Homo sapiens: one gene and its partners. The protein of the gene in region 3 interacts with the protein of the main gene of each other region in a pairwise test. Each region holds a gene or a part of one and is shown on either strand. Other genes may lie near its edges.

What was found. Proteins that work in one complex are often made in the same cells at the same time.
Region 1: the proteins of NF2 (region 3) and TNIP3 interact in binary tests that used the Homo sapiens proteins (3 or more experiments, as listed by UniProt).
Region 2: the proteins of NF2 (region 3) and NEBL interact in binary tests that used the Homo sapiens proteins (3 or more experiments, as listed by UniProt).

Annotation. Positions count from the first base shown.
Region 1 is NC_000004.12:121,161,317-121,169,149, forward strand, and holds the start of TNIP3 (TNFAIP3-interacting protein 3), read right to left. Parts: upstream 3,006-7,833; 5' UTR 2,831-3,005; coding exon of another isoform or gene 2,810-2,830; coding exon 2,744-2,809; intron 1-2,743. UniProt on the Homo sapiens protein: Binds to zinc finger protein TNFAIP3 and inhibits NF-kappa-B activation induced by tumor necrosis factor, Toll-like receptor 4 (TLR4), interleukin-1 and 12-O-tetradecanoylphorbol-13-acetate.
Region 2 is NC_000010.11:20,779,468-20,782,354, reverse strand, and holds the end of NEBL (nebulette), read left to right. Parts: 3' UTR 1-2,382; downstream 2,383-2,887. UniProt on the Homo sapiens protein: Binds to actin and plays an important role in the assembly of the Z-disk. May functionally link sarcomeric actin to the desmin intermediate filaments in the heart muscle sarcomeres.
Region 3 is NC_000022.11:29,690,633-29,697,632, reverse strand, and holds part of NF2 (merlin), read right to left. Parts: intron 2,882-7,000; coding exon 2,831-2,881; coding exon of another isoform or gene 2,824-2,830; 3' UTR 1-2,823. UniProt on the Homo sapiens protein: Probable regulator of the Hippo/SWH (Sav/Wts/Hpo) signaling pathway, a signaling pathway that plays a pivotal role in tumor suppression by restricting proliferation and promoting apoptosis.

The DNA.
Region 1 (7,833 bases), on a different chromosome or scaffold from region 3:
TTGCGATTTAAAAAATACCTGATTCTAGCAGTAATAATCCTCATACCCTAAGTCCTTCATCATGGCTGGTGGATGAGTCAGCTTCATATTATGTTTTAGAATGCTTTACATAAATTAGTTACCAATATAATTCTTTAATAAATTATAAATATATCTGTATACTATAACGGGTAAGTCAGAGATTAAAATTTTATGAATTTGGATTTCAATCCTTTTCCAAAAAAATGACAATTCAGAAATCAGGTAAGTTTCATGGATATATTTTAGGTATTTTTATAGTAAACATTTCATAAAAGTCATTTTGGTAGCTGTGCCCATGAACATGTATGTGAGTAATATTCTGAAAAGTAGACCCAGTAAACGTCAGAGGAACGACAAAATCATCGAGAAAAAGACAAACACATACAGCCATTACTGTGTAATTACTGTGTAATTTTAGCCAGCTCTTTGAATAAAGTCACTAGGTTACTAGTTTAGATTAATAATAAATTACTGGCATAATGAAAATTTACCACCTTTCTTTTCAGTTATTTTTTTCAGGAGTGAGAGTATTCATTTAAAGATAACACAAAAGCTGTGGAAGCTGTCTGCCATCTGCCTAAATCGACTAAGAACAATATTTACTTAAATAAAGGACTGGATCCTCTATAATAATTCAATAGTCTTATTACTATCTCATCTCAGAGTCATATAAGTAATACAATTTATTGGATGATGAGAGTAATTCCTACATCTGTAATCTGTTTCAGGCTTAATAGTTACTGTGGATCACTAAGTTGCTTAAAGCTATTTGTGAACCATTAAGAAATATTTTCAAAACATGTTGTTGGTCTTTGCCAGAAATGTGTACAGGAAATTGTTCTTTGCAATCATCATGGGATTTCAAGCACCTTTTTTCATCAGAAATTATTTATAAAACTGTATTTTCTATCTTTTCTCTGTTTGTTTATGTTTCAGCATTTTAGGGTTTGATGGTATTTTAAGTAAGCAGAGATGTTCTCGTTTCCTTAGCTTCTTCCTATTTAGACCTATGTTACAATTAAGACCACATTTAAAAAGAGACAGTCTTCTGTGGGTCAATAAATTCTGAATGATTATATTTGCTCTTGACCTCAAGAAGGTGTTCTGGCTGAGCACCAAGAGTGACACTGAAACCCAAGTGTCAAGTATGTTGGGGCCCGTAATTGGACCTTCTTCTTTTGGGGAAGACTTCCAAGAAACTGGACCCATTCTGGGTTAGAACAGACTAACTATTAAGCATCTTTGATCTGGAAAATGCTGTGAGCCAACCCTACTTAGTGTATCTTGAGGTCATCAGCAAAGTAGGGGCACAGTAAGACTGGATTTTAGAATGGTGGTTCCCACCACAAGAGCACATCAAAGTCACCGTTAAGCTTGCTAAACATAGAGCATCCTGAACAATGGATCAGAATTTCTAGAAGAGCAGCCAGGGCACCTCTATTTCTAATACATTTCCTAGGTAATTTTGATTCATACTAAAGTTCAATATATTCCCATTCTAGGGAATAAATTATGGGTCCTCAAAAATGTCTCCTCTCTGTTTGTGATGTAGACAAAAATCCGTGATTGGCAAACATTTGTATGTCCCTGCCTTTGGGAGCCCAGATGTGGAACAATGAGACAGTGTGCTTTTTGTTTGTTTCCCCATAAACAATTTTCTCTGGAAGAAAATTATAATACATTTCACCCTTGATTTTTCTTTAATAAATAAAAATTACTGAAAATCTAGATACCAAATCTGCAAGAGGCTCTATTTGTAACTGCACGAGTACTAGTTTTTGAAATTCATAAGTAATATTCAGTTATAGGTGGGGGAGGATAGGAGGGAGGAAAAATAGAAAACATAGTGACTAGGAATGGCATGTAAGTCACAAATGTATCACCAAAGCTTTCTCTGGAGATTAATCAACATTTTGTTATAGTTCATATGTCTCAGGTTTCTATAAAATAAAGCGAAATTAATCAAATACAAAGGTTTGGGGGACCTTTTCAATTTGTATTTACTTTGCTTTACAGTTGCTAATGAAGGCATCTGATTTGCAGTAACTACAAAGATTTTCAGTCATTGATTCTAGCAAGGGCTGCTTACGGAACAGTTATTCCCTATACATAATTTCCTATAATTATTCCCTATAAAGTAGAATTTCTGTTCAAAGCATCTGGGCACTTCTTTCTCTATGATAACATCCTTACCAATGTATATTCAAGGTCTGATGCTACTAAATTAAAAACTTAAATGAATAGAAGTTTCCATTTAGTTTCCCATTATACCTTGGTTATCTGTAAAAGAAAACTAGAAAATATTTGAATTCATTCATTCAATTAGCAGTAGTCTCTGTTGCTGAACAAAATCTATGGTACCAATTGTAAATATATAAAAATATTACTACAGATACTCTATTGTTACAATATGTTCTATTTCTACCTACACCAATATAGTATTCTTTTAAGATTTTTATAGAACAAAAATCAAGAACAAAATAAGGAACCCACAGAACTGGAAGGCTGAAAGGAATTTAAGCCCCGTGGGTTAAAAGCAATGTACTGGTTACTTAGATATTTTTTTCTATGTTACATAATTTTGGTTAAAAATATAGAGCAAATCTTAGCTAAAGAAAGCAAACTAGCCATTTCTGTTCTTATTAATAAGTGCACAATTAACCACTAGAAATGCCATCAATGCTAGATGTGATCAACTCATCTCCTAGAAATATGTTCTTACCTCTTTATGCTCCGTAGAACTTTCTGCGGCAATCATTCTAGATGTGCCCTGTACAAAATGTGCCATGGAAGCTGTTTTTCCTGGAGTCTTGGAAAGCAGAAAGAAAAACAGGGGAAAAGTCTCTTAAGGTATATTTTAGGGTGAGAGCAAGTATACAAAATTTAAAAAACACACATCACCGTTAACTCATAATAGAAAATAACAGCAATAGGTTTTCATTAAAAATGAACAGAAGTGACTGTGGATAGGAATTACACAGAATAAAGTTATAAGCACTGCAACTGGGATTTTAACTTTTCTTCTCTTCCAAATAGGGATTTCCCAGGATGTCTCAAATAGGCAGGCCGTGACTAAGACCTGGGGCAGATTAGCCTTGCTATAGTATGTAAATCGTCATTCTTCCTTTACTGGCAGTTTCTCCCACTGGAGGAGGAAGTTCTCCACCACAGAAAGCCTGGGCAATCCAAGTGTTTCCTCAGTAGCCTAACTGTTATAAATTCATTGTATTTCCCAGAGCAATTAGGTAACTGTTGACTTTTTGACAGCTCGGTTTCCCTAAAGGCGAGATTTTCTGGCAATACCTTCTAAATGTGAGTGTAGCTTGGTAGAACTTAATGAGTCATACATAATTCATAATACATAATAATATAAGTGCCACTAATTCTTATAGAAATAAAAGGGAAAATAATTCATTGTAAAGAAAATGGGCATTGTTTGCAAATCTAATCTTCTATATTGGCAGAAAGGTTAAACTTGTCTCAAGTTTAAGTCTGTCTTTTCTATAAATCAAGTCCAGATTGTCTCCATGACTCATTTGAAGTGAAATCTTCTCATGGAGAATCATTTTCACTTTAATTATTTGACTGTTATCATTTTAGGAGCCTTGAGGTAATGGAGCACTACTGGGTAGTACAGATAAAAGCGTGGAAATGGCAGATACTTGGAGCTGCATAAGTGAACTGCGATGGAACAGAAGACCTCATTTTGGACTTGGAACAAAAGGAAAGAGGCAAGGAATACAAAAAAGGAAAGAATGTGTAACTAAAAAGAGAAAAGAATTTATGGTCAATCATTTAACTTCATTAACCTGCCTACGAGATATTCACATATATATAGGATAAAGCCTAAAACTCCTAAAATTCAAAAGAGAGTGATTGAGTGTCCCACATTTGGCCCTCCCATTTCTCCTGAATATCTCCCCCTACTCTCCAACTCTCCCCTGTGCTCCAACCATCCTGACTGACCTCCCTTTCCTGAAATGAGTGAGATGGTTCTACGCCCCTGAGCTCTGTGCATGCTGTTCTTGCCACCTCAGATGTCTCCTCTCTGGGCCCTCCATCCAACCTTATGACGGGGAAAACCTAAGTCAATGCCTCTCTTTCCTTCTGATCTTCTCTTGACTTCCTCTAATCAGCTAAGGAGAGCACTTCATCATGCATTACGATTACATATTTCCATGTTCTTGTGTTAATCTCTGTGTCCACGCACCCAGGCACTGAGCTGTCTGGCACACAGCAGGCATTCAACACATTTTGCTACATGAATAAATGAATGAATATCTATATAATGATTTACAAAATCGATGAACTTTTTGCTAGTTTGTGTGTGTGTGTGTGTGTGTGTGTGTGTGTGTTTACTTTCTTCTGGTTTCTTGTTATGTTTGGGTCTACGCTTGAGTGAAAGGGAGTGACGCTGCTTTAAGGCAAAATCCAAAAATACAGGTAGGAATCAAATTGTTCATTCAGGGTTCTGAAAGTAAAAAGTTATAACTCACATAAGATCTGACTTTAGGGTACAGAAGCAGCGATTTCCTGAACTGACACTTTATCAACACTAAAATCTGCTCATCAGAAAAGAAAAAGAAAACTCTATTGTAAGAATATTTTTCTTCTGAAACATACCATGCACATACACACTCCATAGTTTTATATAGTGTAAGGTTCTCTTCAGCTTTAACTTTGTATTTGTATAGGGATGTGGTAACATTGACCTAGAAAAGTGGGTGGGAAGAACATTTTCTTGCCAGGAAATACCATCCTTGGCATTGTGCCTCTTGAGTCTCCCCTGTAAAATATCCTGATGCACATACATTGTTAGGTGTGATGGCTTCTATTAAATGGAAATTCTATACCTTTGCTTCTTTCTTTACAATTCCTTTGCCTCTTCTGTTATGCAGATAAACAACAAACAGATTTTCTATTAGCTCAAGAGAGCCATATGGTTATTTATGAATAAGTAATAACTCTTCTGAAGAGCCACAAGTTTGGTTTCAGAAAAATGAGACTTTCAATATGCCATCCCTAAGAATTAATTGGGTCTTTTCTGTTACATATGCTCTGTTCACTTCACCTCCATCCCTCTCACATTGTGCCACATATTTTAAGAGTCTGGCTTTTAGTCAAGCTTTGTTTCATGAGAAGTATCACTAGCTGAAATCACTTTCAGAGAAACAGAGGTGTCATTCCATGTTTCCAAGGCTGTTGTGAAGAGTCTTCATTTCTGAAGTCACTAAAATATTATACAGAGGAAAGAAAATTAAAATTAACAAAGGGAAATGTGGTAAAGGAACAAGGACTACCAGTCACTGGTCTATAACCATCATTCTGGTGGACAATAATTATCTTAAAATTAGTCCAAGAGGAGAGTACTATATTTCTATAAGTTATTGGAGGCATTCTTTGGCAGGTAAAAGAAACATGCCTTTTTCCTTTTTATGCTTTTACAATGGGAGCTGAAAAACCTTCTTTGTTTCCTGAATCTATTTGCATGAATTTTTAAGTGTATGTGCTATGTAGGTAGGAAAGAGAGGATTAGTAATGACTAAAAGATCTAGCTCTAGAATTAGATTATCTGGACTCACAGCTTGGCTCTGCCACTCACTGCTTGTGCCTTTGGTCATCTAAGATGCTTAAGGTCTCTAAGGCTCAATTTCCATTTTATACAATGGGATAGTAATAGTATCCTTCTCCTAGGGTTGCTATCTGAGCTTATATAGTAATAACAATTTGGTTTTAAAGATAGGACCATCAATCAAATTATTTATGAAACAAATAACATGACAAAAGGAAAGGGAAATCCACAATTTATGCATCACTCACCCTGTACTTGACATTGTGTGGGTTCCAAAGGAAAACAAAAGCAAAAATTCCCTGCTTATGATGAAATGTACACACACATACATATGTGTGTGTGGCTGTGTGTATGTCAATATATATATATTTGAAAAACTAAACAGTAAATGAAGACCAGGAAATGAATGATAGAGACAATAAAGCCTGTAAGAATTCAGAGGAGAGAGTGCTCATTATCACCTTTAATAGCTATGGAAAGAGTCAGAGTTTCTGCTGGGCCTTGAAGGGTAGATAGGATTTTGACAGAGAGTGAAAGCTGAGCTATAAATGCTGCAAAGGGAGCACAGTAAGAAACAGAACACAACTGGGCAAGCCTAGTTATGAAGGATTCTGACAAATCCAGTTTACCTAGAGTAGGGTCCGTGTGGTATTTTCAAAGTTTATTTGGATGAAATCATAAAAGATTTTAATTTCAGATTAAGAAATGTTGACCTTATAGGCCATATGGAGTTACTAAAGACCTTTGGGCAAAGGAATTACATGATCAAAGTGGTTTTTTAATTGGTTTTAGTTCATCATGTATTAAATGGGAGAGATTGGAAACTGCAATGCAGTTAATATACATTAGCAAAAGTAATATTCAAAATATTTATTTTAACAGCTTGTGACAATCAGAATATTTAGCACTCAGTTCACCAGGGGCACTAGGAATGGACCATATCCCTGGACTCGAGACTCCTGTATTAATTGCTTAATTGTCATCTCTGCTTGTATGCATAATAGTTACCTCCTTCTTCACCTGACCTGTTTGATCAGGATAGCTTAGTTTATGATTTTCCCTGCAAAACTTGCCTTCCCTGTTACAATTAATAACACCTTTTATTCTCCAGATCAAAAATCTTGGAGTCATCCTTGACTCTTCTTTCTCTTACATCCTGCATCCAATCTATCTGAACATTTTGTAGGCTTTTTGAAAATATATCCAGACAGGGGAGGAGCACATTGCCACAAAAGCCTAGAGACTTCTCAGTTTAATAAGCAAGTGGCAAGGTGAAATAAACTTACCATTTTTTCTTTCTTTTTTCTTTTTTTTTGAGACAGAGTCTCGCTCTGTCACCCAGGCTGGAGTGCAGTGGCACAATCTCGCCTCACTGCAACCTCCGCCTCGTGGGTTCAAGCAATTCTCCTGCCTCAGCCTCCCAAGTAGCAGGGATTACAGGCATGCACCACCATGCCTGGCTAATTTTTTTTGTAGAGACAGGGTTTCACCATATTGGCCAGGCTGTTCTCGAACTTCTGACCTTGTGATCCACCCGCCTCGGCCTCCCAAAGTGCTGGGATTACAGGCATAAGCCAACATGCCCAGCCTTTTTCTTTTTTCTTTTCTTTGCTTTTTTTTTTTTTTTAAGAGACAGAGTTATGTTCTGTAGTACAGGCTGGAGTGCAGTGGTACAATCATAGCTCATTGTAACCTCCAACTCCTGGGGTCAAGCAATCCAGCTGCCTCAGCCTCTTGAGTAGCTACAGGTGTGTACAACCACATCTGGCTATTTTTATCTTTTAAATTTTTGTAGAGATGTGGTCTCACTATATTGCCCACACTGGTCTTGAACTCGTGGCTTTGAATGATCCTCCCACCACAGCTTCTCAAAAAAAATGCCTTTTAATAACTTTTTCAAAATGAGGACTTTAATATTTGCTTCCTGATTTTATTCATAGGAACATTTTTAAGAGCGTGTCCAGCAGTGACTGATCTCTGACTGTGTGTCAAACCTAGTTCCACCACTTGCTAGTTATGTGACCTTGGGCAAGATGATTGGCATTTTTGCATGACACCAACTCACCATCATCTCTTAGCTGGATTACTGCAATAACCTAAGGGTTTTCCTGCTTCTATTTTTGCTTCCACTCCCCCCTCCCCATTATTAACACAGTGGCCACTGTGAGACTTTTAAAATGTCATTTCATGTCATTCCACTGCTCAGAACCTTTCAGTGGCTTCCCATGTCACTCATAGTG
Region 2 (2,887 bases), on a different chromosome or scaffold from region 3:
CTATAGAAAGTGGATAAAAGATATACCAAAACTGTAATACAGATATATACAAATATAGGTGCCTTTTTGATTACTCTTGTTTGTCTAGTATGCTCTTGGAAAGAAAACCAAGCAAGCAAGTTGCTGCCTATTCTATAGTAATATTTTATTACACATGATTGATATTTTTGTGGTAGGGAAGTGGGATGCTCCTCAGATATTAAAGGTGTTAGCTGATTGTATTTTATCTCTAAAGATTTAGAACTTTAGAAAATGCCGACTTCTTCCATCTATTTCTGAAAGGTTCTTTGTGGATTTATATAGAGTTGAGCTATATAAACATTAACTTTAGATTTGGGATTTAAAATGCCTATTGTAAGATAGAATAATTGTGAGGCTGGATTCACTACACAAGATGAACTTCACTTCATAAATTAATTATACCTTAGCGATTTGCTTCTGATAATCTAAAAGTGGCTAGATTGTGGTTGTTTTGGTTAAGGTGATATGGAGGTGGGAGAGCTTTTAGTTAAGTAAGAAGCTATGTAAACTGACAAGGATGCTAAAATAAAAGTCTCTGAAGTATTCCATGCCTTTTGGACCCTTTCCTCGCAACTAACTGTCAACTGTTGATCAAAAAAGTCAAGGCATTGTATGTTGCTTCTGTGGTTATTATTCTGTGATGCTTAGACTACTTGAACCCATAAACTTGGAAGAATCTTTGAGCAAATTTTCTCAGTTGTCTGTATGACTTCAGTATATTCCTGGGAATGCCATAGGATTTTTTGTGCTTGATACATGGTATCCAGTTTGCATAGTATCACTTCTTTGTAATCCAGTTGCTGTTAAGAATGATGTACTTTAAAGGAAAAGAGAAAACTGCATCACAGTCCCATTCTCCAGTGTCCATGCAATGAATTGCTGAGCATTTAGGAAGCAGCACCAAGTCTATTACAGGCATGGTGTGAAACTTGATGTTTGACCTGTGATCAAAATTGAACCATTGTACAGTTTGGCTTCTGTTTGCTTCAAAATATGTAGAATTGTGGTTGATGATTAATTTGCGAGACTAACTTTGAGAGTGTAACAGTTTTGAAGAAAACATTGAATGTTTTGCAAATGAAGGGGCTTCACGGAATGTTACAATGTTACTAATATAATTTGGCTTTTGTTATGCAAATTGTTAACACCAGCTATTAAAATATATTTTAGTAGAAATGCTTTAATTCATATTTTTTTCCTCTACACTGTGAATCTTTAAGCCTTGGTGGACTAGAGCAACATCGTGCTGCCCAAAGGACTAACCTATGCAAACTAGTTCACATTTTAGTGGATGTCGCAGTTAATGTGTAATAAGACATTATTTCCCCTGCATAATGTACAACAGCATTGAAATGACACATTAAGCCTAGCATCACATTGTATAGTACAGTCACTCACAAACCCTTCAAGGCTACCCTAATCATTAACATTAATATTTGTTTAAAAGCAAATCACCGATTTATCTATTGAAACTACTTAAATGACGGCAAACCAGGAATGACAGATGGCTGTGTCAGCAATGGCTTTAATGTGTTCCCTGCAAGTGGTCTCCTATGATAGAACTGCGTTCTCAAATGCACTCTCTTCAGGGTCTTAATATTCTGTGTTTTCTCTCTGTATTTGTAAAACATTATAACACATTAATTTCCTATCTCTACACATTTGGTTTGCTTAAATAAATGCAGGATATAAAAAAAATGGTTCACTTCTTGGCTCTCACCGTGGTTTCTTGGAGCATGGGTTGTTAGATGCAAGCAATGCACCCTAATAATACCCCGGGTCTGAGATTTAACATGACAACTCACATCAAATCGCATCAGAGGTGTGTGCTGCCTTCAGTGCATTTACATTGGTGAATCAGTCAAGATATTTTCCTCCCCCAAATAAACTTAGTTGTAAGTGATAACAATATTATGCTTCTCCAAGCTCAGTATCTTTCTGATTTTATATCAAAGTACCGCAACAATGCATCATTGTAGTTAATTTATTTCAAGAATAAATTCCTCATATGTCCTCAATAGTACAATTCTAATTTTCTTCTATTCATAAGATGAAAGAAATGGTTTGGAGCATAGAATAGAAAGTGCACAAATTGAGTACATAAAATGGGAAGCAACTGATTTCTCAGCTAAGAAAGGCTCATTTATCACAGAACACAATTGCTTTTCTCCCCCCACTACGCTTCCCATAATTGAAAAAGTGAGTCCCTATTTTTCACACTCATATAAATCTATGCGATTTGGATGCTAGTCTTATTGTATTATTTTGTAAAACTTTCTCTTTGGCTCATAATCCTTCCTAATTGTAAATTGATAAACTTTGCGGATGACATCTGCTCGTAGAATAAACACTTCTTCCAAATATTGGATTTTCTGTTTTTCATATTCCGTAAGTATGAAATGAATATTTTAATAGTATTATGAATCAAGCACACTGTATTTGAAATCACAAGACAGCACAGTTATTTATTTGAAGAATTCACTACCTTTTTTCCCTCTGAGACTTTTTTTTTTTCCATTCGATTATAAATTTACTCTTTGTAACCCAGGCCACAGAGGAAATGAATACCTTAGATTTTTTTTTTTCTGACAAAAAATAATTTAGCTTTTAAACAGACTGTGCTTATAATTTTATTTTCTTAAACATTTGTGAGGTTTTACGGGTAACTATGACATGCGCACCAAACAACTTTTCTACCAAAATAAGTTTCTACAAAAATATATAATAAACTAAAAAGTAGGTAAAAGGGGATTTTTTTTTTTCTTCATATAATCTGCTTTGATATGGTTTGGCTGTGTTCCCACCCAAAATCTCATCTTGAATTGTAATCCCTATAATCTCCATAATCCACACGTGTCAAAGGAGA
Region 3 (7,000 bases):
ATCACGCCATTGCACTCCAGCCTGGGCGACAAAGGCAAAAACTCCGTCTCAAAAAAAAAAAAAAAAGGATGCAGTCATCCCAGCCACAGGAACCAGTCTGTGAAAACCAGGCATCTCTTTCTTTCTTTCTCCTGCTACTGGGGCTTGAGATGCTCCTGAGGCCCATCCTCCTCTCCACCTTCTCCATCTGTGGGGAGGCACCTCAGTATTCCTGCCTCAAGGAGGGGGAAGTGCTCCTGGCTGAGCAAGGTCCTGCAGTTCCCAGCCTGCTCCCTGGAGCCCCAGGTGCTTCTGCCACAGCTCAAACACCAGCCAGCTCCCTTGAGGCCGCGTGGCTTGGCACTTCCCAGACTTCAGAAGTAGACACGGCAGCTAAAGAAGGAAACAAAGCCCGACAGCGTTTTTATAAACCACCATATGCTCCCACCTGCAGCCATTGTTAAAGAACAAATTTACAGGTCAGGAGGAAAGTAACTCCTGGTGGAAATCCAGGGATGGGCTTCAAGACTGAGAAGAGACCGGGCATGGTGGCTCACGCCTATAATCCCAGAACTTTGGGAAGCCGGGGTGGGAGGATCACCTGAGGTCAGGAGTTCGAGACCAGTCTGGCTAACATGGCGAAACCCCATCTCTACTAAAAATACAAAAATTAGCCAGGCATGGTGGCACACGCCTGTAGTCCCAGCTACTCGGGAGGCTGAGGCAGGAGAATCTCTTGTACCTGGGAGGCGGAGGTTGCAGTGAGCTGAGATCGTGACACTGCACTCCAGCCTGGGCGACAGAGCGAGACTCCATCTCAAAAAAAAAACAGAAACAGAAACAGAAAAAAAAAAAAAACGGAGGAGGCAGAGCCAGACCTCACTTTACAAACGCCTGAAGCTTCCGCTCCTGGCTGGGTCACACTAGGAAGACACAGGGCCACAACATCCATACTTACGCTCTAGGTCTGGAGTCCCACCCTGTAGACCCTAAGTGGCTGGGTGGCACCCAGGGCTGGTTTCCTTGGGGCAAGGTGACCCAAGCAGTTGCCGAGCAGCCCAACCCCATTAGGTCAGCCTGATAGTAGGAAGAAGGCAGGATCTCTGTGCTCTGTGAGCTGCTAAGTTTCTCAAAACCAGATGGAATTGCCAGAGACCACCTCTGCTCTCCAAAAATCTTGAGGCCCCCATAGCCTCTATCTTTTATCTGATTAAGACAAATCACCTGCTTTGCATAACAGCCAAACTGGAAGGATCTCAAGGGCCCTGGCTGGCCACAGCAGCATCAGCCATGGAGAAAAGAAAGGGCAAGAAGGGGCTGGGTGCAGTGGCTCATGCCTGTAATCCCAGGTGTGAGTTTGAGACCAGCCTAGCTAACATGGCAAAACCCCGTCCCTATTAAAAATACAGAACATTGGCCAAGTGTGGTGGTGCATGCCTGTAGTCCCAGCTACTTGGGAGGCTGAGGCAGGAGAATTGCTTGAACTCAGGAGGTGGAGGTTGCAGTGAGCCGAGATTGTGCCACCACACTCCCACCTGGGTGACAGAGAGAGACTCCATCTCGGAAAAAAAAAAAAAAAAAAAAAAAGAAAGGGCAAGAAGGTGGCCCCAGACCAAGGAGTGAGCCGTGGGGGTGGTTCTGTGGCCCTCTGTTGCCTGGCATGGAGGTGGGTCCTGTGACAGCCTAGGTGAGCGCCACCTGTGAGTGGACACCTGCATCAGGCCTGTGCTGGGAGGGGCACAAAGGGCCCTGGCTGGCCCCCAGGGAACAGAAAATTCAGGGCCCGAAGAGGGACAAGGGCAACAGCAAAGTGAGGCCTGGGTACAACAGTGGGTTGGGAAGTGGGCTGTGGCCACTGGCACGTGGCTGGGAGGGAAGGTGAAGCAGATGGGCCGTGCAGACTGGGCCGGTGGAGCTCAGAGTCTGGGCCAGTGAGAAGCAGCACCTGTGGAGCCACAGGGCTTACAGATCCCTGGTCATAGCCGGGTTACGGGTGCTGACTGCAGTACGACCAGGGAGTACCCCAGCCCCACACAGGAAGGAGCGTCTATGGGCGTCGGGCAATGGGGAAGACATGAGTGGCTCCTGCCTGCCTCTCGGACCCTGGTCTAGGGTGGCCGGAGGGGGACAGCGAGTGCCCTGTACCATCAGCTCCCGCACGGCACTACCCAGCCCCTCGGCTGGCAGTCAGCCTGCATCACAGCTTCTGCCTAAAGTCTCTCCCCAGCCACAGCTGCCCTGCCTATTCCCCACCAGCTGCCAGCCAGAGCGCCGCCTCGGGGTGCCTGGCGGGGACCCAGCACTTGCTCGTCACGAGCTCTGGGCGGGCTCCCTGACGATGAGAAGCCGGCAGGCGTGCTGGCCTGGGATCCGCCGGGCTGGGCTGCTTCGCTGCATGCCAGGTCCTCACCGGTGGGGGAATGAATGTTCCGGAACCCTGGGCGGGGTGGGGATGATGGCACTGGCTTCTCAGGGCTTCAGTGTCTCACTCCCTACAATGACTTCCCAGGCTGGGCGGTGGAGGTCAGCTCTGGAGTGCAAGACACACACACACCGGTGCCTTGGACGAAGGGAGTCAGGAATCCCACATTAGACAAAGGAAGACAAATACTTCTTAAAACAAAGACTCAGGTCAGAGAACTAGAACGCCATGAGAGAAATCTCTACAGGGTCGTAGTTCAAGGCAATTGCACATAAGAGGGGCTGGGCTCTTCACTCAGCTGGGGAAAGTTCTGGAGCTCCCACGGAAACCCCCAGCCAGCTCCCTATGGATGGCTCTCTTGATATCTGGTCCATCCCGCGGTCCCGGTAGCAGGAGAAGTGGCAGGTCCTGGGGTGGCTGGGTCACCTGCTAGAGCTCTTCAAAGAAGGCCACTCGGGACTTGGCGCTCTGCAAGGTGAGCTGTAAGAAAGCAGAGAAGAAGCTGAGAGGGCACAAGACCTCCGCTCTGTCACACAGGGTCCTGTCCTGCCACTTGGACTCACCTCAAAGGTGGCTGGGAGCGAAAGGGAAGGCTGTTCAAATAGATGCTCAAGAAGTTGGCTGTCAGTCCCAAATAAGCGGCCAGATTTGCCCAATAATTCAAATTAGGAGGTGACAAATGAGGATGTGCAAGGGGAAGGCTGGTGGGCAGAGGCACGCCAGCAGGAAAAAGCCGTCAGCATTGCCTCTTGACAGAGGACCGGAGATCCCTGCCTATTTTAATAGATTCTCACATTCCCATCTACCAAGGTCCCTGAGCCACCTCTGTGGTGTGCTGTCTGTGGCGGCACCAGCTGAGGCTGCTCATCCCCTCCGGGCTTGGCAGGGCAAGCATCTTAGTCCTCATGCCCTGGCAACATGGCTGGGGTAAGGTGACGTGGCCTGAGGCAAGGCAGGCCTGTGGCAGATGAGGAAGAGTTTACCCCTTCTACTCCTGGTTTCCCAGGTGGTCCCGAAGCAAACTTGCTCATGACGTGGCAGCTGAGAAGGTGTTTCTCTCCATGAGCTGGAGGCAACGGCTTTCTCAGTGTGGCTTGTGCAGGCAGGGAGGGCTGGTGCACACAGGTGGCACTCTGCCCAGCAAATGTAAAGAAGGACAGTCAGGGAGATGTGGAAGGGGATGGGGTGGATCAGGGACCGAGCTCTTGGCATAGTGAGGTTTGCAACCTCCTAAGCCCTTGACTCTGGGCCACTTCCCAGCATCTCCCTGGATAGAAGCATCTGGAGCCAGCACTCTCCCTACTCCCTGCTCTCTGCTGACTCCTGAAATCAATGCCTTGGGTGTGACTGTGTTCCATTTCCAGCTCCGGGACTTCCCACAGGAGTGCGGGGGTGGAGGGGAGGGAGTCTGTACCATTCATCTTCATATCCCCCAAATATCTGGCTTAGTGTTATGTGCCGATCAGGAGCTCAATGTTTGTTAAGCGACCAGGACGTGGGCTATGAAGATAACTAAACTGAGGTTCGCGGGAGAGGCAAGAGCTCCACACCCGGCTGAGAAGGTCCGAGAGCTCACTCTCTGCCATCAGCAGCTCACTGCAGACACCCCTGACCTCTCTGAGCCTCTTTCCTCTGGAGGTTGCCATGGGGCAGGCAAGATGGTCTGGCCCATTCTCTGGACCCCTCGAGTCTGCATGTGAAGAGTCCTCGGTACTATCGGCGGCTCCATAAAGGGCAGGGGAGGGAGACTCCAAACCCACCACTTCACCATCAGAAGACAGACAGCATTAGTGTGCTCAGAATGAGACAGCTTGAGAGCAACTCTTTAAATCCTGCCAAATCTTTTGGCCTTGAAGTTCCCGACTAACAAGCGGAATGTGGGGAGGCAGCTCAGCTGCCTTCTTCAGTGGAACCAATTTCAGAGCCCTTTGGAAAGCCCGGTTCTGATGGGAATGGAGAGCGCTTTTTTGCCTAAATGGAACTCCCTCTAGAAGGGAGCTGCATCAGGATGGGCTTCTCCCTAAATGTAATCAGAGGAGAAGGGCCAGGAGTTATGTGCCCTGTGATGATGGGAACCAGAATGGTCACTGGGGAAGAAAGGAGGAAGAGATTTAGCTGCCAGATAACTACTGGGGCAAAAATGAGAGAGGGTTTAAATGAAAGCATGTGAGCCCAGTATCTCCGCTCAGGTTTCTGAAAAGAACAGCCACTTTGAGTCAGATACAGGCACAGTCAGCTGCCTGGTGCAAGGCCCAGCTGGGCCACTGACCAGCTGTGTGGCCCTGGGCAGGTCACTTGCTCCCCTCTAGCCTCAGTTCCTCACTGTGAAGCGGGCGTGATGGCAGCCCCTTCCTCGTGGGGTGACAGGCAGAGGAATTGGGAACCGCGTGTGATGCACTCAACACTGCACCTGGCGCATGGTGGGAACTCGGCAGCTGTTATTGCTAATAGCAACATCACGTTTCTCCCCTCCCTGGGGAGGGAGGAGCCCTGGCCCCTCTCCTTCCAGTGGGGAGCAGGGTGCTCGTTAGGAAGGGGTGCAGGCAACAACAAGGTCACGTATGGCACTGGCCTCCATGCCTACCAGGCGGGCCAAGTGATGCCCCTATGAAGCCTGGCCACTTCCCCAGGCAGGGAGCCCAGGCTGTGGGGGCCTTGAGAGGCTCCTGCCCATTTGTGCAATGTTGGCTCCAAGAATTCCTGGATCCTCCACCCGAGGAGCATGCTGGCTGTCCCCTCGAGGTGCTAGGGGAGGGTTCTGGCACTGCCAGCAGCACCAGATTCCAGTGACTCGAGCATGTGCTTATTAGGATGCAGAGTGCTCTGGGGTGGGTGGGGTGCTTCCTGAGCCCCACCTGAGCTGCACTGCAGCGCCTCAGCCCCACCTCTTATCTTGCAAGAGCAGGAGCTTCGCCTCAGCCACAAGTAAAGGTAGAGAGGGAAATCAGTCTGCCCACACAGAAGTAGGAAGGCACCACAGCCACTGGGCAGGAGAGAGAGCCACAGTCCTCCAGAAGGCACTGAGGCGGTCAGAGGGGAAGGCAGACCCACCAGCTGGAGGCAGCCACGACCTGGCTGCACTGGTCAGCAAGGGCTGCTGCCCGAGGGCCCTGGGAGCCTTCGGCCACTGCTGCTCGCCCCTTAGACAGACCTGGCTGCTGCCGCCCCATCCTTTACCCTCATTGTGCAATTCCTATGGGTTCCAATCCCCACAGGAGCCCCGGAGTCAGAATTTACTGCACAATGCTCCTCCCTGCTGCTGGAGGCCACCCCCATGGCTCTGCTTCCACCTTGGGGGTATCCTTTATCTCAGACACCACAATGCCCTCCTCCCAGCAGGTGAAGAAGGCAGGCAGTGAGACGAGGAGAGCCCTTGAGCTTCTTTCCTGCAGGTAGCAGCTCAGTGGAGCCATTTGCCCTCAGGCAGTTTTTCTACAGAGAGCTTGGGAAGCCACCCCGCGGAGCATGCAAACAGCTCTGCCACCTGCACGCCCTGCCTGGGCACTGTCTCGCCCCTCCAGTGGGCAGGCTCCTCACCTGTGGATCTTTCACCATCTGCTGCTTCTAGAAAGCTCACTGGCTGTTACATTTACAGTACACCCATAGGCAGGAAGTATTCATAAAGGAAAAGGCAAAAGCTCAGAAGAAATGGCAAAAAGCTAGCCCTTCATAAAATAAACTCTGCCTCCGAGTCTTCTTTTTAAACACATGAAAACCAGCTAACAAGTTTCCTGGTTCCCCTGCGATGCTCTCATACCCTAAGGTGTGCAGGCCCATCAGTGTTAGGTACATCTTCCTGCTCAGCAACCGGCCTGGGTCCCTCTACACTGCCCAGCAACACCTGCTTGCTAGAGCCAGAAGAGGCCTCCCAAGAAGGCCTTCACCTTGTCCTATGTTGCACTGTGAGTTGAGCACTGAAGCCACTCTGGTGAGTCCCATTCCCACCCTGAATTCCAAACAAAAATGTCCATGCTCCCTTTGGCAATCCAGCAACAGCCCTCCCCTTGCCCAACCTTGCCTGCCTGGGGAGTGGAGTCCCCCCAGGAGGGCGGGGAATTCCTCGCATGCACAATGAGTATCTTGAAGGTTATCCAGGAAGAAGAGGTCTCCAAATTTCAGCAGGTAATGAAGCAGAAGCACCTCAGGGTGTACAACCAGGGTCTCGAGGACAGTGGCTGCACCAGTCTGGGACTTGCCAAGTCTGGTCAACTGCCTTTGAATCCTTCTGAAGACAAGTGAGCCAAGCTCTGGTGAACCTGACCAGTGACGTCTGTCATGCACTGTCCTTCAAAACTTTCACTGAATCTAGACAAGGTCCAACCATGGGAGTCCCGCAGCCAGGCCCAGTTCCTTGGGCAGGCTATAAACCCAAGGGCCCTGCTCAGAGTCTCCAACCCAAAGCGCTCCTGCCAGTTCCCTGAAGATGCCTACAAGAACATGAAGCCTCCGCACCAGGCATGGGCTGACCCGCTGCTCTCCTCCAGCTGTCTCTTCACATCTGATTAGAATCAGCCGTGTGAATAACACAGGAGGAATTAAGTTCTCTCTCGACTGAACCGGCTGCTCAAGTCTGTCACTAATCCAATTCCATTCTGAGGA